5 linked regions of the Homo sapiens genome follow. The protein of the gene in region 4 purifies or fractionates together with the protein of the main gene of each other region. This does not show direct contact. Each region holds a gene or a part of one and is shown on either strand. Other genes may lie near its edges. The genes, in order: KDM4A, HAVCR2, RCBTB1, POLE and DDX46.

What was found.
Region 1: the proteins of POLE (region 4) and KDM4A purify together in Homo sapiens (pull-down; one study listed by IntAct). This does not show direct contact.
Region 2: the proteins of POLE (region 4) and HAVCR2 purify together in Homo sapiens (co-immunoprecipitation; one large-scale study listed by IntAct). This does not show direct contact.
Region 3: the proteins of POLE (region 4) and RCBTB1 purify together in Homo sapiens (co-immunoprecipitation; one large-scale study listed by IntAct). This does not show direct contact.
Region 5: the proteins of POLE (region 4) and DDX46 purify together in Homo sapiens (co-immunoprecipitation; one large-scale study listed by IntAct). This does not show direct contact.

Annotation. Positions count from the first base shown.
Region 1 is NC_000001.11:43,669,341-43,675,365, forward strand, and holds part of KDM4A (lysine-specific demethylase 4A), read left to right. Parts: intron 1-2,164; coding exon 2,165-2,535; intron 2,536-6,025. UniProt on the Homo sapiens protein: Histone demethylase that specifically demethylates 'Lys-9' and 'Lys-36' residues of histone H3, thereby playing a central role in histone code. Does not demethylate histone H3 'Lys-4', H3 'Lys-27' nor H4 'Lys-20'.
Region 2 is NC_000005.10:157,094,003-157,100,027, reverse strand, and holds part of HAVCR2 (hepatitis A virus cellular receptor 2 precursor), read left to right. Parts: intron 1-1,126; coding exon 1,127-1,170; intron 1,171-4,568; coding exon 4,569-4,722; intron 4,723-6,025. UniProt on the Homo sapiens protein: Cell surface receptor implicated in modulating innate and adaptive immune responses. Generally accepted to have an inhibiting function.
Region 3 is NC_000013.11:49,538,221-49,544,245, reverse strand, and holds part of RCBTB1 (RCC1 and BTB domain-containing protein 1), read left to right. Parts: intron 1-2,418; coding exon 2,419-2,570; intron 2,571-3,239; coding exon 3,240-3,370; coding exon of another isoform or gene 3,371-3,379; exon of another isoform or gene 3,380-3,838; intron 3,839-6,025. UniProt on the Homo sapiens protein: May be involved in cell cycle regulation by chromatin remodeling.
Region 4 is NC_000012.12:132,673,843-132,677,342, reverse strand, and holds part of POLE (DNA polymerase epsilon catalytic subunit A), read left to right. Parts: intron 1-689; coding exon 690-797; intron 798-1,138; coding exon 1,139-1,249; intron 1,250-1,522; coding exon 1,523-1,608; intron 1,609-1,825; coding exon 1,826-1,945; intron 1,946-3,500. UniProt on the Homo sapiens protein: Catalytic component of the DNA polymerase epsilon complex. Participates in chromosomal DNA replication.
Region 5 is NC_000005.10:134,763,945-134,769,969, reverse strand, and holds part of DDX46 (probable ATP-dependent RNA helicase DDX46), read right to left. Parts: coding exon 5,878-6,025; intron 3,054-5,877; coding exon 2,910-3,053; intron 1-2,909. UniProt on the Homo sapiens protein: Component of the 17S U2 SnRNP complex of the spliceosome, a large ribonucleoprotein complex that removes introns from transcribed pre-mRNAs.

The sequences.
Region 1 (6,025 bases), on a different chromosome or scaffold from region 4:
TATGTGTCCCGTGTTAGATGCCATATTGAGTGCTGGGTCAGAAATAAAAAAGGCAGAGTGACAGGTCCGTGAGCAGATAGCATACTTGGAGTGTGAGAAGTGCTTTGGGTAGGGATGTACAGGGAGGACTGGACACGTAGGGAAAAGCTCCTCCCTCTGCCTGGTCAGGGGTCAGGGAAACACTGGAGGTTTTGGTGAAGGTGACTCTTACAAGGTAAGTAGGACCTTCCCAGGCGGACAGAGAGAGAGGAGGGATGTAGAAAGGGAGTCCCAGATGGGAGGAGCAGGGCACAGGCATGGAGATGGGAATTTTTTTTTTTTTTTTTGAAATGGAGTCTTGCTCTGTCATGCAGGCTGGAGTGCAGGGGCGCAATCTTGGCTCACTGCAACTTCTGCCTCCTGGGTTCAAGCGATTCTCCTGCCTCAGCCTTCCAACTAGCTAGGACTACAGGTGCCTGCCACCATGCCTGGCTAATTTTTTTTTGTATTTTTAGTAGCGATGGGGTTTCACCGTGTTGGCCAGGCTGATCTTGAACTCCTGACCTCAGGTGATCCGCCTGCCTCGGCCTCCCAAAATGCCAAGTGGGATTACAGGCGTGAGCCACTGTTCCCAGCAGAGATGGGAAATATTAATAGCATGGTCCACTTGGGGGAACTGGTGGGGAGTTTCCCTCAATTGAATATTAGGGTGGAAGGCAGCTGTGTGACCAGAAGGTGACGCTGGAGAAATAGGAGATGATGTAGGGCTGTCTGCCATTTTCATTTGCTCACTTGGAAGCTTAAGAAGCCATTTATATTTTAAGAGAGGGAGTGGTGTGATCAGTGCTGTTTAGCAGTCACTTGGAAGGTCATTGAGGCTAGATTTGTTAGAGAAAGGCTTGTATCTGTCTTGGGTCAGGTATGACCCAAAGATGTGGTCTGCCGACAGCCAGGCAGCACTGTGGACTGACACCCTGGGCTGGGCTGGCTTCTCTTCAGCAGATTTTCTTTCCCTTTTTTCTCTTCAAATTTATTTATTTATATTGACAGATAAAATCGTGCATATTTGTCTTGTACAACATAATTTTTTTGTTTGTTTTAGAAACGGGGTCTTACTGTGTTGCCCAAGCCTTTGTGAACACAGCTCACTGCAGCCTCAACTTTCTGGGCTCAAGCAATCCTCTTGCCTCAGCCTCTCAAGTAGGTGGGACTACAGGCATACACCACGCCTGGCTAATTTTTTTTTTTTTTTTTTTTTTTTTGAGACGGAGTCTCACTCTGTCTCCCAGGCTGGAGTGCAAAGGCATGATCTTGGCTCACTGCAACCTCCGCCTCCCGGGTTCAAGTGATTCTCCTACCTCAGCCTCCCAAGTAGCTGGGACTACAGATGCTTGCTACCACGCTGGCTGATTTTTGTATTTTTAGTAGAGACGGGGTTTCACTCTGTTAGCCAGGATGGTCTCGATCTCCTGACATCGTGATCCGCCCACCTCAGCCTCCCAAAGTGCTGGGATTACAGCAGTGAGCCACCATGCCTGGCCCATGCCTGGCTAATTTTTAAATTCTGTAGAGACAGAGTCTGACTTTGTTGCCCAGGCTGGTCTTGAACTCCTGGGCTCCAGCAATCCTCCCATCTTGGCCTCCCAAAGTGCTGGGATTACAGTTTTGAACTACTGCTCCTGGTCCAACATGATTTGTGAAGTATATATAAGTTGTGGAATGGGTAAATCTAGCTGTTTAAAATACATATTCACATAGTGGTCATTTTTGCAGTGAGAACATTTAACATCCACCCTCTTAATATTTTTCAAGATCTTTAGATTTTCTAGCATGGGCTAGGTAGCCAGGTCTCTGCTGAGCTCAGACTTGCATTACCTGCAGGAGACTTTGGAGGAAATGGCAGCTGCCCCTTACTGAGTGTCTGCTGAGTGCCAGGCGGTGCTCAGGAGTCTTATTTATGAGCCCTGTAGATCTGTAGTAGCATCTTCTCATTACAGAGGAAGAAGCTGGAGGCCAGGAGGCTGAGCAAATAGCCCTGGCTCACAGTGCCCCTCAGTGACAGAGCCAGGATTGGAAGCCAGGTCCCATTCCCCGCCCATGTTCCTTGTGCTTTGCCCTCTGCCTTTCATCAGGTTCACATGTGCAGGAGGAACTTGGCTCTGTCTAATGTGTATGTGTGTTTCAGATTATTCTGACTCCACTGAAGTCAAATTTGAAGAGCTTAAAAATGTCAAACTAGAAGAGGAGGATGAGGAGGAAGAACAAGCAGCAGCTGCCTTGGATCTTTCTGTGAATCCTGCGTCTGTAGGGGGACGCCTTGTCTTCTCAGGCTCCAAAAAGAAATCATCTTCTAGCCTGGGCTCTGGCTCTTCACGGGATTCTATCTCTTCTGATTCAGAAACTAGTGAGCCTCTCTCCTGCCGAGCCCAAGGGCAAACGGGAGTTCTCACTGTGCACAGTTATGCCAAAGGGGATGGCAGGGTCACTGTGGGAGAGCCATGCACGAGGAAGAAAGGAAGCGCCGCTAGAAGTTTCAGTGAGCGGGAGCTGGCAGAGGTATGGGCTCCAGGCAGTGGTGTGGGGTGGGGAGCTGCCCTGGAGGACACCCTGTCGGGAGGGGATCTGTGTGGGGGAGGGAGGTGGATCTGTGTGATGGAGGTGCTGCAGGAGGGCAGGAGAGACCCTCAGTCAGTGCCTCTAGCCAGCAGTGGTTGTGTCAAACAAAAGCCTGGGGTGGCATTCACTCTCCCAGCTTGTTCTTTGCTGGGAGTTGCTTTTCTGTTATCCCTGTGGCTACTGATTCCAAGAATTGCATCAATGCAGCCTGAGTCACAGCAGCAGATCCTCCTCAGCCCACTTGGATCACAATGCCTTTTTTTTTTTTCTTGAGATAGAGTCTCTGCTCTGTTGCCTAGCTAGAGTGCAGTGGCATGATCTTGGCTCACTGCAACCTCTGCCTTCCAGGTTCAAGCAGTTCTCCTGCCTCAGCCTCTCGAGTAGCTGGTATTACAGGTGTGTGCCACCACACCCAGCTAATTTTTGTATTTTTAGTAGAGACAGGGTTTCACCATGTTGGCCAGGCTGGTCTGGAACTCCTGACCTCGTGATCTGCCCACCTCAGCCTCCCAAAGTGGTGGGATTACAGGCGTGAGCCACTGTGGCTGGCCTTTTGTTTTTTTTTCTTTTTTTTTTTGAGACGGGGTCTCGCTCTGTTGCCCAGGCTGGAGTGCAGTGGCACGATCTTGGCTCACTGCAAGCTCCGCCTCCTGGGTTCACACCATTCTCCTGCCTCAGCCTCCCGAGTAGCTGGGACTACAGGCGCCCACCACCACGCCCAGCTAATTTTTTGTATTTTTAGTAGAGACTGGGTTTCACCGTGTTAGCCAGGATGGTCTCGATTTCCTGACCTTGTGATCCGCCTGCCTTGGCCTCCCAAAGTACTGGGATTACAGGCGTGAACCACCGTGGCTGGCCTTTTCAACTGGGGTAGGCAGGAACTCTTCCTCTGATCCTCATTGCCTTAGCGGCACCAGGGTTAGAATGGCTGCTGTTGGAGCCCACGTGTTTGGAGGTTTGGGATCAGATGAGATGACCTTTCTTACCTTGAAATTCAAGGGTTTTTTTCTTACACCTCTTGACTGCCCTGTAGACTCCCAGTATGACATTGATAGAGCATCCTTTTGGAGACCAAGATGCATTCCCAAAGCTATAAACACGAACATGTGTGTTCAGGCTTCCTCCTTAAATACATGTTGTCACCAAAAGCTGATTCCTGCTTTTGTGCAAAATGGCTCTTGGTGGGTCTGCCACTCTGAGTGATCAGTCATGTCAGATGCCACTGGACCCCCACTACCCAAGTGACTTTCCCTGACTCCCCAGCCTTGGAGCTTATGTGGGTCAAGCTGCAGTCTTTGGTGAGGGGTGGGAGATAGAAGAAGCCAGTGCAGAAGGTCCTCTTTATTCCCTATTCCCTTACCTTTAGTTTTTAAAAATGTATCTTAAAAATCTTCACTATGGAAAATTTCTGACGTACGTACAAAATACCATCACGAGCCCCCGCGTGTACTCATCATATATATGATTAACATTTGGCACATTTGCTTTCTGTTTTCTTTGGCTGCAGTACTTGACACTCAGTCATATTCACATTTCCCTAGTGTTGCCAATAGTCCCTTTTTATGGTAGGTTTGTCTCCTTGTTGTTGATACTCATAACTTTTCTCGGTGCCTTCTCTGAATCTCAGGGTACGGTTTTGGTAGACTTCTTTTTACCTTGTGAATGTTCCTCTTTCCATCCCACTGTGGTTGCAGGCTAATGAGCTAATAACTACTGTGTTTCCTTCTCATTGCCTCTGATTGCAGTTCTCTGTGCCTTCTTATGGCAGCTTCCATAAAGGAGGGCTTTTTCAGCCTGGAAACCAGAGTCTCTTTAACTCCCAGTTGCCACCTAGCAATTCTTCCTTCGCAGAGGCCCCGGGCCATTTCATCCATCCTACTGTTGACTACTGTTCACTACAGTTCATGCTGTCCTCTTGCTGAGTCTTCCTGACATTCTTGTTTCTAGTTGCAATCACAATCACAAAAAGCAGCTAAGAAGTAGCAAGAGCTCACTGTATATTAAATACTTTGTTTATCTTTTTTGAGACAGGGTCTTGCTCTGTTGCCCAGGGTAGAGTGCAGTGGCACAGTCTTGGCTCACTGCAACTTCTGCCTTCTGGGTTCAACCCATCCTCCCCACCTCAGCCTCCCAAGTAGCTGGGACTACAGGTGCACACCACCACTCTTGGCCAATTTTTGTATTTTTCGTAGAGATGGGGTTTCAACATGTTGCCCAGACTGGTCTCGAAATCCTGGGTTCAAGTGATCCTCCTCCCTTGATCTCCCAAAGTGCCGTGATTTCAGGTGTGAGCCACTGTGTGCCCCACCGCCCCCCAGCTGTTAAATACTTTATATGCATTGTTCAGTCTTTGTATTACTGCTTAATTAATCTTATTACAGAGTCAAGTTTTTGTGGGAATTTTTTGGGGTGGGAGGTGCAGGAAGCCAATAAATAACACCTGTCCTTTTTCCTCTCAATTCGGAACTATTTAATTGATGATACAAGAGTCAGGCATATGGAGCTCAGAATGTCGCTTTATTTACAAGTTAAAATGATTGAAGAAAGTGACTTTTAACCTGTGACTAAATGGCCCTGCTACTTTTTTTTTTTTTGTGGGGGGACTGAGTCTCGCTCTGTTGCCCAGGCTGGAGTGCAGTGGTGTAATCTTGGCTCACTGCAACCTCCACCTCCTGGGTTCAAGTGATTCTCGTGCCCCAGCCTCCCGAGTAGCTGGGATTACAGGCATGCACCACCACTCCTGGTTAATTTTTGTATTTTTTTTAGTAGAGATGGGGTTTCACCATGTTGGCCAGGCTGGTCTGTAACTCCTGAGTGCCCGCCTCAGCCTCCCAAAGTGCTGAGATTACAGGTGTGAGCCATCGCGCCTGGCCTACTCATTTACTCTTGATGTCTCCAGGCCCCTCTAGAGGCAAAGCATTTCCATGGAAGCACTCAGCTTCCATGTGGTGTGGATGTAGGCCAGAATGCACTCCCTCTCCAAAAGACAGATCCTAGTGAAGTGAAGCACAGCTTTCAAGGGGGTGGGGAGAAGAAAAGCCAGGACTCCTTCCGTGTGGAAGTGTGCTAGGGGAAGGGGTCTTCTCTCTGACATGTCTCTCTTTTTCAGTCCTCTGCTCAAAAACCCTTGAGTGTCTTCTTGGTTCCTTTTTATTTCGGTATGTACTTTTCAGGCCGAGCCTGATGATAATACCCTAATAAATAACCCTCTCTGCTCCATCGCCAACCATCCCTCCACCTCCAACATGTGCTGGCTTGTTTGTTTGAACTACTTAAAAGTCTCTAAAACTGTCTTGGCTGCCCTGCCACTTCCCTCTACTTTCTAATCATTTATGGCATGCCTACTCTAGGCCAGGACTGTGCCTTCAAGGAGCTCACAGTCTAGGATAGATAGGTAAGAGCAAATCATTCCAGTACTTAATGATACGTG
Region 2 (6,025 bases), on a different chromosome or scaffold from region 4:
AATGCAAAACTTATTTAAGAAAATGGAGGCTGGGCACGGCACGGTGGCTCACGCCTGTAATCCCAGCACTTTGGGAGGCCGAGGCGGGTGGATCACTTGAGGTCAGGAGTTCGAGACTAGCCTGGCCAACATGGCGAAACCCCGTCTCTACTAAAAATACAAAAATTAGCTGTGTGTGGTGGTGTGCCCCTGTAGTCCCAGCTACCAGGGAGGCTGAGGCAGGAGAATCGCTTGAACTCAGGAGATGGAGGTTGCAGTGAGCAGAGATCATGCTACTGCACTCCAGCCTGGGTGATAGAGTGAGATTCTGTCTCGCAAAAAGAAAAAAAAGAAAAAGAACATGGAGGTTGCAGTGAGTTGAGATTGTGCCACTGCACTCCAGCCTGGGCAACAGAGTGAGACTGTCTCAAAAAAACAAAAAAGAAGGAAATGAATTTTTGTTGTCTTTTAAAATCTAATTAGAATATAATGCCTGAGGCCAAGCCTGGTCGTTCACACCTGTAATCCCAGCATTTTGGGAGGCTGAGGTGGGCAGATCACCTGAGGTCAGGAGTTCACAACCAGCCTGGTCAACATGGCCTCGTCTCTACTAAAAATACAAAAATTAGCTGGGCGTGGTGGTGCATGCATGTAGTCCCAGCTACTTGGGAGGATGAGGGATGAGAATTGCTTGAACCAGGGAGGCCGAGGTTGCGGTGAGCTGAGATTATGCCACTGCACTCCAGCCTGGGTGACAGAGTGAAATTCTGTGTCTAAATAAATAAATAAATAAATAATGCCTGAGTCTTATCAATATTGCTAGATGTTTGTAGAACTCATTAGGGTCCTGTGAAAAAAACAAAGCACATATTTAATGTAGGACTTCCTGGCAGAAGTCTCTATTTCATAAAACAGTACGGTTCATTATCTAGATGAAAAAATGTGGCCATCCTAAAGTTGATTCCTGGGTGTTCAGTAAATTTTGTCTGTCTCTCCATTAATTATTGTGACAAGTACGGAGTAGAATTCATTTCAAATAGGATTATAGGCATCATTAAGATTTTTTAAAAACTTAGATAAAAGAAAACGTTCTTAACTATACTATTGGCTATTTTTCCTCTCTCTCTCTCTCTCTCTCTTTTTATAGCAGAGACACAGACACTGGGGAGCCTCCCTGATATAAATCTAACAGTAAGTAACTTTTTTTGTGAGCTATGTTGTACTCAACTTGGAGGGGAAATCATGGCTTTAGACTTCCTTCATGCCCACCTTGTCCTTGGGGTAAAAAGCCTTAAGTTCCCTTAGCTTCAGATTCCTGGGCTGTAACATGTTGATGATGACAGTTCTAACCTCATAGGCCTGCTGTAATGAAGGACTGACATGATGTGTGTAAAGTGCCTGGCATATAGTAAGAGCTTGAAAACCACAAAGAAGAAACATTAGCATTTTGTCCCTCTTATTCTTCAATTTCACAACTGTCTACCCTGTGGAAGGTTCAAAGATTCTTCATCTCCCTAGAATACCATTCTTCTTGCTTCCATTGCAATCCTAATGGGAAAGAGTATTTAAATTTATCTCTTTAAATATGGCAAGACACCAGTCAGGAATATTCAAAGTGAAGAGGTTTTTTTTTTTTTTTTTTAGACAGAATTTCGCTCTTGTTGCCCAGGCTGGAGTGCAAGGGTGTGATCCTGGCTCACCTCAACCTCCGCCTCCCGGGTTCAAGCGATTCTCCTGCCTCAGCCTTCCGAGTAGCTGGGATTACAGGCATGAGCCACCACACCCGGCTAATTTTTTTATTTTTAGTAGAGACGGAGTTTCACCACATTGGCCAGGCTGATCTTGAACTCCTGACCTCAGGTGATCCACCTGCCTCGGCCTCCCAAAGTGCTGAGATTGCAGGCGTGAGCCATGGCACCTGGCCTAATTTTGTATTTTTAGTAGAGACAGGGTTTCTCCATGTTGGTCAGGCTGGTCTTGAACTCCTGACCTCAGGTGATCCGCCCAACTTGGCCTCCCAAAGTGCTGGGATTACAGGCATGAGCCATGGTGCCCAGCCAGTTTTATGTATTTAACTATAAATAAAGCCATACCTTAATAAACCTCAATTTTACTGTCCCTGCTACCTTCTCAGAATAAAAGAAAAACTGGCTGGGCGCAGTGACTCACGTCTGTAATCCCAGCACTTTGGGAGGCTAAGTAGGGTGGATCACCTGTCAGGGGTTTGAGACCAGCCTGGTCAACATGGTGAAACCCCATCTCTACTAAAAATACAAAAAATTAGCCAGGTATGGTGGTGTGTGCCTGTGTAGTCTCAGCTACTCAGGAGGCTGAGACAGGAGAATCGCTTGAATCCAGGAGGTGGAGGTTGCAGTGAGCTGAGGTCGCGCCACTGCACACCAGCCTGGGCAACAAGAGCGAAATTCCCTCATAAAAGAAAAACCACTAGAAGGCAAGCTTGCAGCAATGACTTAAAAATTCTTTGAGGAGGCCGGGCACAGTGTCTCATGCCTGTAATCCCAGCACTTTAGGAGGCCAAGGTGGAAGGAATGCTTGAGACCAGGAGTTTGAGACTAGCCTGGGCCACATAGTGACACCCTGTCTCTACAAAAAATATTTTTTAAAATTTGGCCAGGCATGGTGCTGCAAACCTGTAGTTCCAGCTACTTGGGAGGCTGAGGCAGGAGGATCACTTGAGCCCAGTAGGTTGAGGCTGCATTGAGCTGTGATCATGCCCCTGCACTCCATCCTAGGTGACAGGGCAAGGCCTTGTCTCAAAAAAAAAAAAAAAAAAAAAATTACTTGAGGGCATATCCAGGAGCCCACATTTATTTGACTCAGTTTCTTGCTTGTGTATTCACAACTGATGCTCAGCATCTTGTATTTGCTCCTTCTCTCTTTGCAATCAAACAGTGCTTTTTAAGGACCTGTATGTGCCCACAATGCTTAATGCACAATATCTTGCATATAGGACTCCTGTTATTGCAGGAGTAATGTGTATTGAATCAATTTGTAAATGTATATTGAATAAATGGAAGATTTAACTTCCTTAAATTCATTGTTTTAAAAATGCTTATAATTATATGTGTGTGTGTGTGTGTGTGTGTGTGTGTGTGTGTGTTTTGTATAAATGGGGTCTCAATATTATTAGGCTGGTCCCTAACTCCTGGTCTCAAGTGATCCTCCCATCTCAGCTTCCCAAAGTGCTGGGATTATAGGTGTGAGCCTGGCCTATAATTATTATTTATTTATTAATTTATTATTTATTTTTGAGATGGAGTTTTGCTCTTGTCGCCCAGGCTGGAGTACAATGGCACAACCTTGGCTCACTGCAACCTCTGCCTCCTGGGTTCAAGCGATTGTCCTGCCTCAGCCTCCCAAATAGCTGGGACTATAGGTGCCCGCCACCACACCTGGCTAATTTTTGTATTTTTAGTAGAGATGGGGTTTCACCATGTTGGCCAGGCTGGTCTTGAACTCCTGACCTCGTGATCTGCCTGCCTTGGCCTCCCAAAGTGCTGGGACTACAGGCGTGAGCCACCGCACCTGGCCTAATCATTGTTTTTAAAGAGAGAAAAAGAGAGAACCCATAGACTGAAATTTTAGAAACAGGATTTATTTTGTGTGGCTCTCAGTTATCAGAAAATCAAGTTAACTAGAGCAATAGCAATAATAGCTACGATTGATTGAACATTTATTATGTACCAGGCCCTGTACTAAGCATTTTATATTTTCTCTCACTTAGTTTTCCTGATAACTCTACAGGATTACTCAGCCCTTAGTGGCAGAGCTGGGAATTTTTTTTTTTTTTTTTTTTTTGAGATGGAGTCTCGCTCTGTTGCCCAGGTTGGCGTGCAGTGGCATGATCTCAACTCGAGTACTCCAGTCTTTGCCTCCTGGGTTTAAGTGATTCTCCTGCCTCAGCCTCCCCACTAGCTAGGATTACAGGCATGTGTTACCACGCCTGGCTAAGTTTTGTATTTTTAGTAGAGACGGGGTTTCACCATGTTGTCCAGGCTGGTCTCAAACTCCTGATGTCAGGTGATCCGCCTGCCTAGGCCTCCCAAAGTGCTGGGATTACAGGCATTAGCCACCGCGCCCGGCCTCAGAGCTGGGATTTGAATCCACGACCGTCTGGCTGTAAAGTCTTGGCTATTGAATCACTGTCTTTTTGTGAAAAATAGACGTTTCATAGCAAGACACTAAATGTAAACTACTCTAAAACTCTCTGGGGAATCTTAGGGGATCTTGAACCAACAAGACTCCACTCTAAAGCCAATTTTTGCAGGGGCAGGGAAAGGGTCTTAAGAGCTCCTTCTCTCTTTTTTTTTTTTTTTTTTTAAGAGCTCCTTCTCTACCCACAACACAGAAGGGCACATTTTGTTTCCTTGCTAACTCCAAAGGTTAAGGGAGACCCTTTCTTGGGTTGGCTTGAGTGTTGGCTACAAGGTGACAGATCAAAGGTGATTTGAAGGACTCAGCCATCCTGTGATGTTGTAAAAGGGATGGTCCAATTCACAAATCTTGAAGCTGATTACACAAGCGATTTCTAGCTGTTTTCTGCTTAAATCCTGTTTGTGTTTCCATAGCAAATATCCACATTGGCCAATGAGTTACGGGACTCTAGATTGGCCAATGACTTACGGGACTCTGGAGCAACCATCAGAATAGGCATCTACATCGGAGCAGGGATCTGTGCTGGGCTGGCTCTGGCTCTTATCTTCGGCGCTTTAATTTTCAAATGTAAGTGTTTTTGTTTCTCTCTCCCTCTGATAACAAATTCTTCAGTGAGAACCAGTAAAAACCTAGATAGAAATGCAAATTCATGTTTATACCCAAAGATGATTAGACTAAATACCCTTTTGTCCATCCAAATCCTAACAATAATGGCTAATTTTTATTTAATATTTATTGTGTGTCAGGCAGCCACTGCGTTAAATGTTTTACATACATTTTATCATCATTACTGTCTTATGAGATAAGGAATAGTACCATCCCCATTTTACAGTGAAGGGAAGTCAAGCTTAGAGTAAGCTGCCTTCCCGAGGTTTCAACATCAGTACCTGGCAGAACCGGAAATCAAATCCAGGCAGGCTGATTCCAGTAAACTAATTTCTTTAATTCATGAATATGTCTAGGTTTGTTACGAAACACAACAACAAAAAACACTTCCTTCTGTGCACTTTTCTGTTATTGGTTTCTCAGGCATACCTCTCTGGCAGTAGACTGCAAGTCCCTTTAACACTGGGTCGTGACTGGGGTTAGAGAATGTTTTCCTCCATCATGGTACTTAGCACATAGCTTTTTCTAAGTTACTTATCCCTTTTTTTTTTTTAAACTAGCAAACAAACAAAAACAAAAAAACAGGCCCGGCGCAGTGGCTCACGCCTGTAATCCCAGCACTTTGGGAGGCTGAGGGGGGTGGATCATTTGAGGTCAGGAGTTCGAGACCAGCTTGGCCAACATGGTGAGACCCCATCTCTACTAAAAATACAAAATTAGCCGGGTGTGGTGGCGCATGCCTGTAATCCCAGCTACTCAGGAGGCTGAGGCAGAGGAATCACTCAAACCTGGTAGGTGGAGGTTACAGTGAGCTCAGATCATGCCACTGCACTCCAGCCTGGGTGACAGAGTGAGACTGTCTTAAAAAAAAAAGTAATAAAATATAAATAAATAAGCAAATAAATAAATAAATAAATACAATGGCCAGGTGCAGTGGCTCATGCCTGTATTTTCAACACTTTCGGAAGCTGAGGTGAGAGGATCAGTTGAGCCCAGGAGTTTGAGACCAAGATCAGCCTGGGCAGCAAAGCAGGATCCTGCCTCTACAACGTAATAATAATAATAATGAGCTGGGCATGGTGGCACACACCTGTAGTCCCATCTACTCAGGAGGCTGAGGTGGGAGGATCACTTGAGCTCAGGAGGCTGCAGTGAGCGGTGATTGCATCATTGCACTCCACCCTGGGCAACAGAATAAGACAGTCTCCAAAAAAAAAAAAAAAAAGAAGTGTGTTGAAGTTGATGAATTTTGATGGAGAATTAC
Region 3 (6,025 bases), on a different chromosome or scaffold from region 4:
TGCCCGCCTCAGCCTCCCAAAGTGCTGGCATTACAGATGTGAGCTACCACGCCCAGCTTATATTGTTTTTTAAATTAAGAATCTGGTGAATACTCATTTCCATCAGAAAATTTATTTACGTGGTTAAAGAAAATACAAAAGGTTGTTATTGAAAAGTGTATATGCCCTCTTTTAATTATAGATTAAGCAGAAAACTCTCATAGGAATGCTGTGCTTCTGTTTCTAAGGGACATGCAATTACCAATTGAAGAATGTTCTAGGCTCAGCATGGTGGCTCATGCCTGTAATCCTAGGACTTTGGGAGGCCAAGGCGGGAATATCACTTGATCCTAGGAGTCTGAGACCAGCCTAGGCAATATAGCGAGACACTGTCTCTACAAAAAATAGAAAAAATTAGCCAGGTGTGGTGGTGCATTCCTGTAGTTCCAGCTGCTCTGGAGGCTGAGGTGGAAGGATTGCTTGAGCCCAGTAGATCAAGGCTGTGGTGAGCTGTGATCATCCTGGGAGACAGAGTGAGATCTTATCTCAAAAATGAAAAAAAAAGTTTTTAAGATATAGTTCCTTGTATAAATGTGAGGGACCTATGCGTTTATTAGTAACTGTTTGCCACAAAGGTTGCCATTGCAGAAAAAGGCACATAAGCTAAGACCATTAAAGTGGCCATTTACAAGTCTTTTTGGAAATTTAGGTAAAAACCTATTGGCAAAGAAATACATTTGAAAGGAACAGAAAAGCCCTATGTCATTCCTTACCTAAGGGAGTAAATATCTGAACCACAGTATTAATTGAAAAGATGAACTGGAACTGTTTCTGTCTGTGCACCTGTGGTCAACCAGTCTATTCCTTTCATGTACAGTTTTCTGACCATGAAATCCATGATTCTTTCTTAGACAACTATTTCTTTTTTATTTCTCAGGTAATTTTTTATGTAAGTGAAACTATTTTTTTAGTATTCTGAATGGATTCTTTTTCTTTTTTTTTTGAGACAGAGACTCATTCTGTCACCCAGGCTAGAGTGCAGTGGCGTAATACCAGCTCACTGCAACCTCCACCTCCTGTGTTCAAGCGATCTTCCAGCTTCAGCCTCCCAAGTAGCTGGGATTACAATCGTGCACTAACCACGCCCAGCTAATTTTTGTATTTTAAGTAGAGACAAAGTTTCGCCATGTTGGCCAGGCCGGTCTCAAACTCCTGACCTCAGGTGATTGAGGCTGACCTGCCTCGGCCTCCCAAAGTGCTGGAATTACAGGCTTGAGCCACTGCACCTCAGAATACTTTTTCTCTTTGTGCCGTATCTCACTTTAAAATAATTTAAAAATATGATTTTTAGAAAGATACAACTGTGTTATACATAAGAAAATCCAATATTCAGAAATCAGTTTCTTGTGCAGGTGGCTTTGTACATGTAAATACAGTGTAGGAGCTGCTCAGGTTTTCTTGAAATATCTGACTATCCTAGTGGATGTGAGTGTTTTATAAATAAGCTTGTAGCAGGCCTGGGAAGAGAGGAAGGGGAACAGGCAATGCAAAAAAAAAAAAGGAGTGATGGCTGTTTTGACGATAAGTCAGAAAAGAAGAAAAATTGTCGGATAATCAGACAATAATCAGCTTGATGTAATCCAGTTAACATATAAAACAGTTTTAAGAATATGCTTATTATGTAAAACAAAAAACAAATGAATCATTTTAATGTTGATACATAGTCAAAAGTTTTGAACTCTTGTTTCTGAATTTCTTTCACTTTATTGTTTAAAATGCATTTCTGTACATCATTTTAAAAAAAACAAAGGAGCAAAAAAATCTTGGGGACCATCAAATGGAAACAGTAGTGGAAGTGCTAGGTACTTCCAGGCTCTATGTATACCTATTAGTATTTAATAGGAGTTACAAAAAATGAAAGTGAGTGTATGTAAAAGGCATGTACAAAAACCACTTGCATGTGGAATGTTTTTTGGGTGCTAACTAAAGGTCTGTGATCCTGGTGTGTTCAGGCCCAGATAGTAGTTAATATACTTACTTTTTTTTTTTTTTTGAGACGGAGTTTTGCTCTTGTTGCCAGGCTAGAGTGCAGAAGCGCAATCTCGGCTCGCCACAACCTCCACCTCCCGGGTTCAAGCGATTCTCCTGCCTCAGCCTCCTGAGTAGCTGGGATTATAGGCATGCACCACCATGCCCAGCTAATTTTGTATTTTTAGTAGAGACGGGGTTTATCCATGTTGGTCAGGCTGGTCTCGAACTCCTGATCTCAGGTGATCTACCCGCTTGGCCTCCCAAAGTGCTGGGATTACAGGCATGAGCCACCACGCCCGGCCCAAGGATACTTCTGTTTATCTGATTTTATCAACTTAATTAGGTAATTTTTTTTTCTTTTTTAAAAATTGCTGCTGAACAAATAAGACTTTTGCTTTGCTGTTTTAGGTGTGAGCATTTTCGATCCATGTTCCAGTCGTATTGGAATGAAGACATGAAGGAAGTGATAGAAATCGATCAGTTTTCTTACCCAGTGTATCGTGCCTTTCTCCAGTACCTCTACACAGACACAGTCGACCTGCCGCCAGAAGATGCTATAGGTACTGTGGTAGCATTGGGATGGACGAGCCGCATGGTGGAGAATATATCCCCTCATATTCTTAGTCCTGAAATGTAAAAAGCTTCAGGTGTATTGGCTTTAATTTGGTGCTTAAAAAAGATTTGAAGTAAGTATCTTTAAAAGTAGTATTGTGTAGTTATTATGGTTAATAGTTTTGGACCTAGTTTATGACCATAGGCTTTTTTGTTCTAATGTTACTGAAGGACTTTTTTTTTTTTAATTTATTTTTAAGTTCTGGGGTACACGTGCAGGATGTGTAGGCTTGTTACATAGGTAAACGTGTGCCATGGTGGTTTGCTGTACCTGTCAACCCATCACCTAGGTATTAAGCTATGGGCTTATTTTAATTTTCTAGTAGTGAAGTATAAGTTGCTAATGCATTTAGCGTTTTAGAAACAAAATGAGGATTGAAATTGCATTTTTTGCTCTTTCTTTGCACTATTGAAGAAATTGTATAAAGTAAATATAGGAGAGGTGTGGAAGTGGAGGAGGCAGACAGTAAAAAAGAGAATTTATTTACTCAAATTCAGAATCTTATCCACTAAGAAACTTCTAATTTACCTGTACACCTCTGTTCACCAAAACAAAATCTCTGTGTATTGGAAATTATTATACATTTGATTAAACCTTTCACATATTTTACTTTTAGGTCTTCTGGATTTGGCGACATCTTACTGTGAAAACAGACTGAAAAAACTTTGTCAGCACATTATCAAGAGAGGAATTACTGTGGAGAATGCCTTTTCGCTATTCTCTGCTGCAGTCAGATATGATGCAGAGGTAACTTAAACAACAAACAGAAACCAGACCACCTTTAACTCCCTTTGTGCTCGTCTCCCCCGCTTCTTGCGTGAGGCATGGAAAACGATGAGTCACTCCACTTCTGTTTAGGGAATCAGTGAACCCATTGAAAACTGAAATCTGCCCTTGCTTCTTAATTCCCTGTTCATTGTTTCAAAAGTCGTTGTTCCTCTACTTTCATTTCTAAGTAAGACAGGAAACGAACCAAGGTCCTAGCAGCTGTGCTGCAGGTTGGAACATAAGGTGCCACAACTAATTGGACTAACAAACAGCATATTTTAGTTTCAAGTCTTTCTTAATGTCAGCATATGTGTTTATTTCGAGACTTACCTTGCTGTCTTTCCACCTCTGCCCTGTCATAAGCTGGGGATGTGTATGATTTGTATCTGTGTACGCTCTGCAATTCTATTAGTGTCTAATTACAGCTCACAGTTATTTACCTGTTAAGAACTTGCTGTGGACTCCTTTTGTTTTTGCACTGGGTTGAGTTCTTAATCTGAGATTCACAGATCTGTTGAGCCTGTGAATTAATGGGCTTTGGGGAGTCTGAAAGTTTGTGTGCATTTTTTTGAAGAACCAAAGCATCAGACTGTAAGCTCCTCGTGAGCAGGAACTGTCTCATTCGTCTGTATACCCTATAGTGCCTGGCACATATTAGGCACCTGATAAATGTTGAACTGGATGAAGATAGTACCTTAAAGGAAGCATTAAGGATGATCAGTGAGCTGAAGGCGGGTATGGTTGGTTTCACAGATTCAGAGAGAATAAAAGGTAGAGAGCAATAGCCTTGGAGTTTCAAAATATCTAGCTAAGTTGTGCATGTAGAATGTTACAATTAGCCTATCCTTGCAGATACTTTGTCATTTGACAAAGCAGAATATCTGGTATCAAGGAGTTTATCAAACACCTGCAAAGATCTGCAGCTGTGTCCTTTGAGGTATAAGAGGACACACTTCATCACACATAGGGATCAAAGTTGACCACGATGTTTTCAAAATGTATCTTATTTTTGTTTGAGGCTATATTCTGATTATAAATATTTGATAAGGTCAAATGTAGCTGACTTTGTCTGCAGCCCGACAACAGATGGAATGATGATCAAAGTAAATCATTTCTAATAGAAAATGGGGTATGATTTTTTTCCTGTCCTTCCTGTGACACCCTGAACCTCTTTATTAGAAAAGCTGTTTCTTTAGATTTTATTTCCACCCGGTGATATAATTTTAAATTGGGTTAGTGCCTTTTCTGTCCATTTGGTGACGGATGTTAGAATCCTCTCTGGGCCTCTCCACGCTCCTCCTCCTTGTTAACGAGTTCCATACTCAGGATCAGACCTTGCTGACTAACACCAGTGAGAACAACCTGGGCAGAGGCAGATGTCTCGGCTCAAGTTGCTGGAAACTTCTTCCTCACTTTTAGCTAAGATCTGTCCTAGGAAGTTTACAGAAAAAGCCTCTGCTGCTGCTTCCTGTGCCAGCAGGTCATTTCCTTTACTAGTTTTCATTTTTCTCATATTAAGTATAAACATGATAAAAACTTCCTTTAGAAAGACTCCAAATAAGTGTGATTCCCCAGAGTCTGTCACAGTGTGGGCATGGAGCTGGCGCTCAAAAATGCATGTTGAATTAAATAAATGAGTGAAAACATTTGAAATACCTCACCATGAAGGTGTGCTTAAAAAAAAAAAAATGGCCAGGCTTGGAGATCACGCCTGTAATCCCGGCACTTTGGGAGGCCAAGGTGGGCCACTTGAGATCAGGAGTTTGAGACCAGCCTGGCCAACATGGTGAAACCCTGTCTCTACTAAAAATACAAAAATTAGCTGGGTGTGGTGGTGCGTACCTGTAATCCCAGCTATTCGGGAGGCTGAGGCAGGAGAATTGCTTGAATCTGGGAGGGAGAAGTTGTACCACTGCACTCCAGCCTGGGCAACAGAGCAAGACTCTGTCTCAAAAAAAAAAAAAAAGTTAAAAAAAACTTAAAATCCTACAAATATTACAGATTCAACGTAGAAAAATTAGAGAATAGAAAGAAGACAAAAAGAAAGACTCACCTCTTTATTTCTAGGGCATATATATATATGTGTGTGTGTGTGTATATATATATATTCATAATTTGTATGTATTTTTTTTTCCTGGTGATACAGGGTCTTGTTCTGTTGCCCAGGCTGAAGCACAGTGGTGTGATCACAGCTCACTGTAGCCTCAACTTCCTGGGCTCAAGTAGTCCTCCTTCCTTCCCAGTCCAGGAACTGGGACTACGGATGTGTGCCACCACACCCAGCTAATTTCTTATTTTTTATTTGTTGTAGAGACAGGGTTTCATTATGTTGCCCAGGCTGGTCTTGAACTTCTGGGCTCAAGTGTCCCTCCCACCTCAGCCTTCCAAAGTGCTGGGATTATAGGCATGAGCCACTGCGCCAGGCCTCTTTCTAGGGTGTATTTCTTAGGTTACAATACAAGTTACGTAATTGACTAATGTGCTTTTACATTTTATTTCCTGAATGCTACAAGATACAGTGAGTACATGAATGAAGTTCTGGAGTACAAAATTAAAATCCATAGCTGGGCACAGTGGCTCATGCCTGTATTCTAGCTACTCAGGATGCTGAAGTGGGAGGATTGCTTGAGGCTA
Region 4 (3,500 bases):
CTTCATCCTAAAATTTCCAGTTTTCTGGAGAGAATATTCTTCAGTGCTGGAGAGTGAATCTGACTCAAAGATATGTTTGCTGCTTTTCCCCCAAATACTTTATTAAAGGAAATATGGAGTTAGAATTTTTCATCAGTTTCTGACAGTATCATTTCCTTTTTTGTTGTATATCACTGTATGACATCAGTGTTTGAGCTAGGCAGGATTTGGACACTCGAGGGAAAGCTGGGACTTCCGTTTGGGTAGTTGATAGTGAAGGGACATGGTGAAAAATGGATTTGTAACTAGAAGGCCTTGGTTCAAACATGACTTTGTGGTGTTGGGAAAGTCTTTGTATTCAGTTTTCTCTTTTCCGAAATGAAGATATCATCTCTGTGCCACAGTTACCTTTCAGAGTTGTCATAACCACCAGAATGAGGTGATGTCTTTTGAAGAGTTTTTCTCCTAAAGTTCTGTGATTTTAGGCTTGTCCTGTGATCAGCTGCTCTCTTAGGTATGTCAGTTTTCATACCATAGGGAGTCGTGATACTCTTGATGTAGGTTGGTTAGTCTTAGGGTCCTTCTCCCAGCTCTAGAGCCTTTTGACTCTTTTAACAACCAGAGGGAGGTAGAGCAGGCTGGGGGTGGGTGTTCAGGGAGGCCTAATGGGGAGTTTAGAGCTTGGCTTTATGCTTATTTTGTCCCCACAGGACCCTGTGGTTTTGGCATTTGACATTGAGACGACCAAACTGCCCCTCAAGTTTCCTGATGCTGAGACAGACCAGATTATGATGATTTCCTACATGATCGATGGCCAGGTGAGCAGGTGGCTTCTGGGAAGTAAGCTCCTGGGATGGGGACCTTGTCTGGTCCCCATACTACAGCAGCATCTGCCCCACTGTTAGTATTTGTTGAGTGAATAATGAGTTAGTCCAGGAATGGGAGCAACCAAGCCGTTCCGACCTCCAGCTGTACCCTCCCCTTTCGAGTGGGAATCCACACACAGAGCGTCTCTTCTCAGGAAGCTTAAAGCACTTTCACATTGCTGTGGACTTCTTTGTAGTGAGAATCTCTAGGCAGAGTGTGTGGGCAGGGTGGGAACGCCATTTCTTGGCTTTGCAGCCTCTGACTTGTGCTGATTGCTAATGAACTTGGCTAGGGCTACCTCATCACCAACAGGGAGATTGTTTCAGAAGATATTGAAGATTTTGAGTTCACCCCCAAGCCAGAATATGAAGGCCCCTTTTGTGTCTTCAATGAACCCGATGAGGTAAGGAGGTATCACTTGGGAAACTACCCGGTATTGTGGGAAGAACGGACATGTGGATCTTTCCAAGGCCTCAGGCATTCCGTCAGATCAGAATTGCAGCTCCATGAGCTTTGTTCTCAGGGTATGACCGTCTTTTCTGCCAGAGACGGGCGGAGGGGCGGGGCAGGAATAAGGGCCAACATGAGGCTGCTGCTTCTGAACTTTGGGAGAGGAATTTGGAATAGCTTGAAGAAGAGAAAGAGCAGACCTCTGACTGCTGTGACTTGGGTTCAGGCTCATCTGATCCAAAGGTGGTTTGAACACGTCCAGGAGACCAAACCCACCATCATGGTCACCTACAACGGGGACTTTTTTGACTGGTGAGTCTGTGTCTTCTCTATGAGTAACTGGGCAGCATTTGAGAGGGAGGGCGTTGCGTGGTGCAGGGGCGCTTCCCATGTCGACTTAGGAGGTGGCTCCTGGGTTCACTCTGCACCTCCCGTGTCTGGGTTCCTCCCTGGGTCTGAGGGAGGAATGGAGAAAGGGGCATTAGAGCCTGACCTGCCCACTTGCTTGTCTGTCCTCTTTCCAACCCAGGCCATTTGTGGAGGCCCGGGCAGCAGTCCACGGTCTGAGCATGCAGCAGGAGATAGGCTTCCAGAAGGACAGCCAGGGGGAGTACAAGGCGCCCCAGTGCATCCACATGGACTGCCTCAGGTAGGGGCCACAGAGCAGCATGGCTCCTCACTGCTGTCCGTGAGCGAGATCTGAAGGCCTCTTGCAGACTGTGCTGTCACCACATCTCATGGGAGGAGGGTGGCCTCCGAGAGGCCGTTTCAGGTCACCCAAGAGTATGGCAGCTGCAACCCTGCCAGGGCCCGGGATGTGCTGTCTTTGACTGTTGACTGACAATTCATCAGTGACCAGGCACATTGAGCATCAGCCTCTGGGGTGGGGAAGCCGCTGGAAAGACGCACTCAGCTGACAGGTCCCAGACCTAGGACCTCATGGAGCTGCTCTGCCCAGGCAAGGTTGGGATGTGGCAGCCCGGCTGCCTCACAGGACAAGCCTCACGGGACAACCACAGATTCCATATGAGCTAGGGTGGGAGGCAGCTCAGAGCTTCGGAGAGTCACGGCGTTCGGGGGCTCTGACATGACTGGTTGGGAAGACAGGTGGATGTGGAAATGCCAACAGAAGGAGGCTGGAAGGGAAGGAAGGGAAGGGAGGGAGGAAAGGAGGGAAGGGAAGGAAGGGAAGGGAGGGAGGGAAGGAAGGGAAGGGAGGGAGGGAAGGAAGGGAATGGAGGGGCCTCCACGGCCTCTGTATTCTGCACAGTGCCACTGGGGTGCTTGCAGCCTGAATGCGTTTCTGTTTAGCTCTGATGCTCAGCACTTGGCTTGGAGAGGGAGGCCAGGAGGCTGGGGCCGGTTTAGCGTGTGACGGTGTGACAGTCCTGATCCAAGGCAGGGAGTGAGGGTTGTGAGGATTCAGGATCTGTCATGTGGGGCAGGGGGAGGCCCAGGGATGCTGGTTCTTAGGGAGGGGTTGGCACCTGGGGTTTTTGTGCCATCCGTGGAGACAGGGAATGGGTAGAGAAGGGGCTTGAGGCAGGAGGTGACCCTGCTACCGATATGCTAGCCTGGAAGCCCCACCCATATGGGGGCCCTGAAGACCACCATGAGGCTTGGTTTGGGCTCGCACTGTAGATTGGGACTCACTGGGTTGCGGGTGGGTCTTGGTGAAAGCTGGGGTAGTGGATGAACTGAAGGCAAGAGGTAAAGTGAGAGAAGAAGGCCACAGGGTGGAGGCTGCGGGGGGTGGAGACCGGACATGACCCCTGGACAGCTGCTCCAGGGAATGCGTCTGTAGGGAGGAGGTAGAGACAGGTTCCGGGTAGAGTGTGGGGGGCCTTCTTTTCTTAATTTTTATTTTTTATTTATTTTTTAAATTTTTATTCTTCTTGGCATCTGATCACATCTTGCCTTCTATTAAAGGAGGGTGGGCTTGAGTGTTTCCGTGCTGAAGGGACAGTGTGAGGAGAGAAGATCAGTGTGGTTGATAGAACTAGGCCCCAGGGGTGCAGACCTGAGGTCTGGGGAGAGGCCCAAGGAGGTGGGGCGCCCGTCGGAGAGGCCACAAACTCTGCTGAGGATGGGAGGAAGGCGAGGGCCGGAAGGACCAGTCCTGGTGCTTCCTTGTGTTGTGGATAGGTCTGTGAGATTAACTAGATCCTGATGAAGGGTTTTCACAAGGTGTCTACACCATGTGG
Region 5 (6,025 bases), on a different chromosome or scaffold from region 4:
ACACCTGGAGGCTGGGCATGGTGGCTCATGCCTCTAATCTCAGCACTTTGAGAGGCCAAGGCAGGCAGATCACGAGGTCAGGAGATCGAGACCATCCTGGCCAATATGGTGAAACCCCAACTCGGCCGGGCGCGGTGGCTCACGCCTGTAATCCCAGCACTCTGTGAGGCCGAGGCAGGTGGATCACATGAGGTTAGGAGTTCTAGACCAGCCTGACCAACATGGTGAAACCCTGTCTCTACTAAAAGTACAAAAATTAGCCGGGCTTGGTGGCAGGCGCCTGTAATCCCAGCTACTCAGGGGTGGGAGGCCGAGGCAGGAGAATCACTTGAACTCGGGAGGCGGAGGTTGCAGTGAGCCGAGATTGCACCATTGCCCACCAGCCTGGGAGACAAGAGCAAAACTTCACCTCAAAAAAAAAAAAAAAACAAACAAAAAAAACAAACCCCGTCTCTACTAAAAAATACAAAAATCAGCTGGGTATGGTGGCACGTGCCTGTAATCTCAGCTATTCAGGAGGCTGAGGCAGGAGAATAGCCTGAACCAGGGAGTCAGAGGTTGCAATGAGCTGATATTGCACAACTACATTCCAGCCTGACGACAGAGCAAGATTCTGCCTCAAAAAAAAAAAAAAAAAAAAAACCTTGAAAATATAACGAAAAAAATTAATCCCATGACACTAATGGGAAGCATTACTAAATATTTGGAAATTCAACCCAAGAAAAACTGAACATACTACATACAAACAATATAGTTTGTTTATAGGTAGGATAGTTAAAATGTGATAAATGAAGAAACAGACCAATATATTAATATTCTGCAAGATAATTTATATATGTAATAACGTTTAAAATCCCAAGGGACATGCATTTCGAATGTTCTAATGTTCTAATGATTTTAGGGGATTTTTTTGAGACGGAGTCTCTCTCTGTCGGCCAGGCTGGAGTGCAGTGGCGCAATCTCGGCTCACTGCAACCTCCACCTCCCGGCTTCAAGTGATTCTCCTGCCTCAGCCTCCCGAGTAGCTGGGATCACAGGTGTGTGCCACCACACCTGACTAATTTTTTACTTTTAGTAAAGACGAGGTTTCACCATGTTGGTCAGACTGGTCTCAAACTCCTGACCTCGTGATCCATCCACCTCGGCCTCCCAAAGTGCTAGGATTACAGGCGTGAGCCACTTCACCCAGACTTCTAATGATTTTTTAATGTTAAAATAACCTGCCATTCTTGGAATAAACCCAACTTGTTTACGCACCCCAACTTACGGCATCTCATAATGAATAAAATTTCTTAATTTTAATGTAATCAAATTAGTCAACCTTTTTTCTCCTTTATAATTGGTGCTTTTTAAAGTAGTTTAGAAATCCTTCCAGATTTGATGTAAGATACCTAGAGGTGAAGAAGAAGATACTCTCTGGCACAAACTTCTAAAAGGTTTAGAATTTTGCCATCTAATTTGGTCTTTGCTTGGAATTGCTTTTTGTACACAGAATAAGGTAGGCAGTCTTATTTCATAAAAGGATACTAGATATCCCTAGAGCAATTTAAAAATTTTTCTGGCCAGGCACGGTGGCTCACGCCTTTAATCCCAGCACTTTGGGAGGCCGAGGCGGGTGGATCACGAGATCAGGAGATCGAGACCATTCTGGCTAACACGGTGAAACCCCATCTCTACTAAAAAATACAAAAAATTAGCTGGGCATGTTGGCACACACCTGCAGTCCCAGCTACTCGGGAGGCTGAGGCAAGAGAATTACTTGAACCCGGGAGGCGAAGGTTGCAGTGAGCCGAGATTGCACCACTGCATTCCAGCCAGGGCAACAGAACGAGACTTTGGCTGTTAAAAAAAAAAAAAAAATCTTCACTTATTACATCATCACCTCTGTCATCTATCAAATTACCATGTGTATGGATGCCTTTCTGGGCTCTTTACATGGTTCACTAATCTGTCTGTCCACTGCTAAACAAATTGCACATTGTCTTAATTTCTGTTAACTTTTTTTTGTTTTTTTTTTTTGAGAAGGAGTTTCACTCTTGTTGCCCAGGCTGGAGTGCAACGGCATGATCTCACCTCACCGCAACCTCTGCCTCCTGGGTTCAAGCGATTCTCCGGCCTCAGCCTCCAGAGTAGCTGGGATTACAGGCATACGCCACCACGCCCAGCTAATTTTGTATTTTTAGTAGAGACGGGGTTTATCCACAATGGTCAGGCTGGTCGCCAACTCCCAACCTCAGGTGATCCGCCCACCTTGGCCTCCCAAAGTGCAAGGATTACAGGCGTCAGCCACCGCGCCTGGCCTAATTTCTTAACTTTTAAGACAAGTCTTGGCTGGGCGCGGTGGCTCAGGCCTGTAATCCCAGCACTTTGGGAAGCCGAGGTGGGCAGATCACTTGAGGTCAGGAGTTCGAGACCAGCCTGGCAAACATGCCAAAACCCCATCTCCACTAAAAACATAAAAATTAGCTGGGATATTATGTCTGCCTCTTCATATAATCCCAGGACTTTTGGAGGCCTAGGTGAGAGGATTGCTTGAGTCTACAAGTTTAAGGTTAGTGAGCTATGTTCTTGCCACTTCACTCCAGCCTGGGCAACAGAGTGAGACCCTGCCTGAAAAGAAAATGACAGAGTTTCTACAAAGATGTCTATAAAATACATTTCTGATTGACAGTTATGTATTAAGTAAGAATACAATGTATTGAATGTTAAAACTGACAGAATCTATTATTTTCCAGTTGAATTATAAACATTATAGCCAATTAAAATAAAACACTGCCAACAGTTCATGGTAGGAGCCAAATGCAGTTAATTCTCTATAAATACAAACTTACAGGGAAAAAAAAAAAAGGCGCAGAGAAGGGAAGCAGTCCCCAGTCTGCACTATAGATGCAGCCCAATGATAACATTACCTATTCTCAGTTTTCTTGCTTTTATTTCCAGGACTGGAGGATCGGGATCGCCGGCCCCGGCTTCTACTCCTTGAGCGTCTCCTGTCTCTACTTCGAGATCTTCTTCGCTCTCGGCTTCTGTCTCTCTCTCTACTTCTGGAACGTCTGAAAGGGGGACACTTTTCATTTATTCTATGACCAAATGGAGCTACTATTTCAGATCAGGGGATTCTGTCCCACATTGAAAGAATCTTAATCACTACCATTATTAAAGGTGGAGGTCTCAATGAAGTAAAGCCAAGTCTTATAAGTGCTCAACGAAAAAAATGAGAATACTAATTTATTTCTTTCATTTTTTTAAAGACAAAGTCTCACACCTGTCACCCAGGCTGGAGTGCAGTGGCACAATTGCAGCTCACTGCAACCTCTGCCTTCTGGGTTCAAGTGATTCTCCTGCCTCAGCCTCCCCAGCAGCTGGGATTACAGATGTGCATCACCATGCCCGGCTAATTTTTTTTTTTTTTTTGGAGACAGAGTTTTGCTCTTGTTGCCCAGGCTGGAGTGCAATGGCGCAATCTCAGCTCACCACAACCTCCATCTCCTGGGTTAAAGCGATTCTCTTGCCTCAGCCTCCTGAGTAGCTGGGATTACAGGCATGCACCACCATGCCCAGCCAATTTTGTATTTTTACAGATGGGGTTTCTCCATGTTGGTCAGGCTGGTCTCGAACTCCCAACCGCAGGTGATCTGCCTGCCTCAGCCTCCCAAAGTGCTGGGATTACAGGCGTGAGCCACCATGCCAGGCCAGAGAATACTAATTTCATAAAGATGTTTGTGAAAAAACCATAATAAGTCTGTAATTAACATCGATTGAAAATCGATGGTCTAAGATAGAATATCTAGTTTCAGATAGCCTAAACCTAAGTATAAGGATGGGCATAATGGGTCTACTAAAAGATCACTAATCTGAAGATGAAGAGGCAAGAATTTCTATCCTGCTACTCCTGGTAACTAATGACATGATGAAGGTCAGATCTCCAACTTTCTGGGTCTCAGTTTCATCATCTATAAAATATGGAGACTTCACTAGACATCTTTAAAATCCCTCTTGCTCTAAAATCTTGTGATTCTACTTTCACACCCAAAAGTCAAAGACCAAATGTTAAATAACCATTTTCACTTAAGTACTTGAATTAATTGTGTGAAATTGTTCCTAGGACCACAAAATGTGAAAATGCTATCCACATTGTCACGGGTGAATATTTTCCCTGAATCCTACGTAACAACAATGTACTCCAATGTCTGAAAAGGATAAAGTTAAATTCTTTCTATGATCCACTCACAACACAATCTTGTCTTCCTTTCCTATTTTAATGAGAAACTGGGCAAGGTATGGTATCTCATACCTGTAGTCCCAACCCTTTGGGAGGCCACTAGCAACACAGTTAAGACCCCCATCTCTATGAAAAGCTTTTTTTAATTGGCTGGGTGTGGTGTGCACAGAAGATTATTTTCTTTTTTTCTGTTTTGAGATGGAGTCCTGATCTGTCGCCCAGGCTGGAGTACAGTGGCACCATGTCGGCTCACTACAACCTCCACCTCCCAGGTTCAAGCAAGTCTCCTGCCTCAGCTTCCCGAGCAGCTGGGTTTACAGGCATGCACCACCACACCTGGCTAATTTTTTTTTTTTTTTTTTTTTTAGTAGAGACGGGGTTTCACCATGTTGGCCAGGCTGGTCTCAAACTCCTGACCTCGTGATTCACCCACCTTGGCCTCCCAAAGTGCTGGGATTACAGGCATGAGCCACCATACCTGGCCAACTTTGTCACTATTAAAAATACAAAAATTATCCAGGCTTTGTGGAGCATGCCTGTAATCCCAGTTACTCAAGAGGCTGAGGCATGAGAATCACTTGAACCCGGGAGGCAGAGGTTCCAGTGAGCCTAGATCGTGCCACTGCACTCCAGCCTGGGTGACAGAGTGAGACTCTGTCTCAAAAAAAAAATAAATTAAAAAAAAAAAAAAGATTAAGGCGCTCTTTAGTTTAAATCTATGACAGCTCATTAAAATAGTTTAAGAGGCTTGGAGAGGGTCTGCTTTGTTTCCTTTTTCTGCCTGCTTTAGAGGCTGCTCTAAACACACTGTTTAGCAAAATGAAGAAAGAAAGAGAAAGAGAGAAAGAGTGAGGGAGGAAGGGAGAGAGAGTGGAAGGGAAGGAGATAGGGAGGAAGGAAGAGAGAGATGGAGGAAGGGAGGGAGGGAAGGAGGGAGAGAGGAAGGAAATTTTACAAATTTCAACAAGGGTGGCAAAAAAAAAAGGAAAGAAAATTAACACCTTGGTCAGCTCTCCTGGAGCAGAATTGGAATAGAACCCTCTTGAATATAACTTATTACTTTACTTTTTACTTCATTTTGTATGTCCCTCAGAGGGCTTCAAGGGATGTCTTTGGGTTACAGGAAATACAGCCTAAAGTTTCCAAACTAAAAACACTGTTTGATGGTCGGACACGGTGGCTCACACATGTAATCCCAGCACTTTGGGAGGCCAAGGTGGGAGGATCACATGAGGCCAGGAGATCGAGAGCAGCCTGGCCAACATGGCAAAACACCGTCTCTTTTAAAGACACAAAAATTAGACAGGTGTGGTGGTGCACATCTGAAATCCCAGCTACTTGGCAGGCTTAGGCATGAGAATCGCTTGAACCCAGGAGGTGGAGGTTGCAGTGAGCAGAGATGATACCACTGCACTCCAGTCTGAGCAACAGAGTGAGGCTCTGTCTCAAAAAAGATTAAAAAAAAAAAAAAACACTGTTTGATAGAGTCTTTGTAGGCACATCCTTCTGGGTCTAATCAAACAAGTAGGGGATAAAGAAAAGGGCCTGCAATTGGGCCACCAAACTCCAGTTGAAAACATACTTTTCAAGAAGCCTGCTATAGCCGAGAAGGCCCAATTTATCACTCGTCTTTTGGAAATTAATTAATGTCTTACCTCAGACGCTTCCTGTCCCTTGACCGAGATCTTCTTTTATCCCTGCTACGAGACCTCTCTCTCCTCCTATCTCTATCTCTACTTCTAGACCGTCTGTCATCTCCACGTTTACTTCTTTTGTCTGAGGGTGAGCGACTTCTAGACCGAC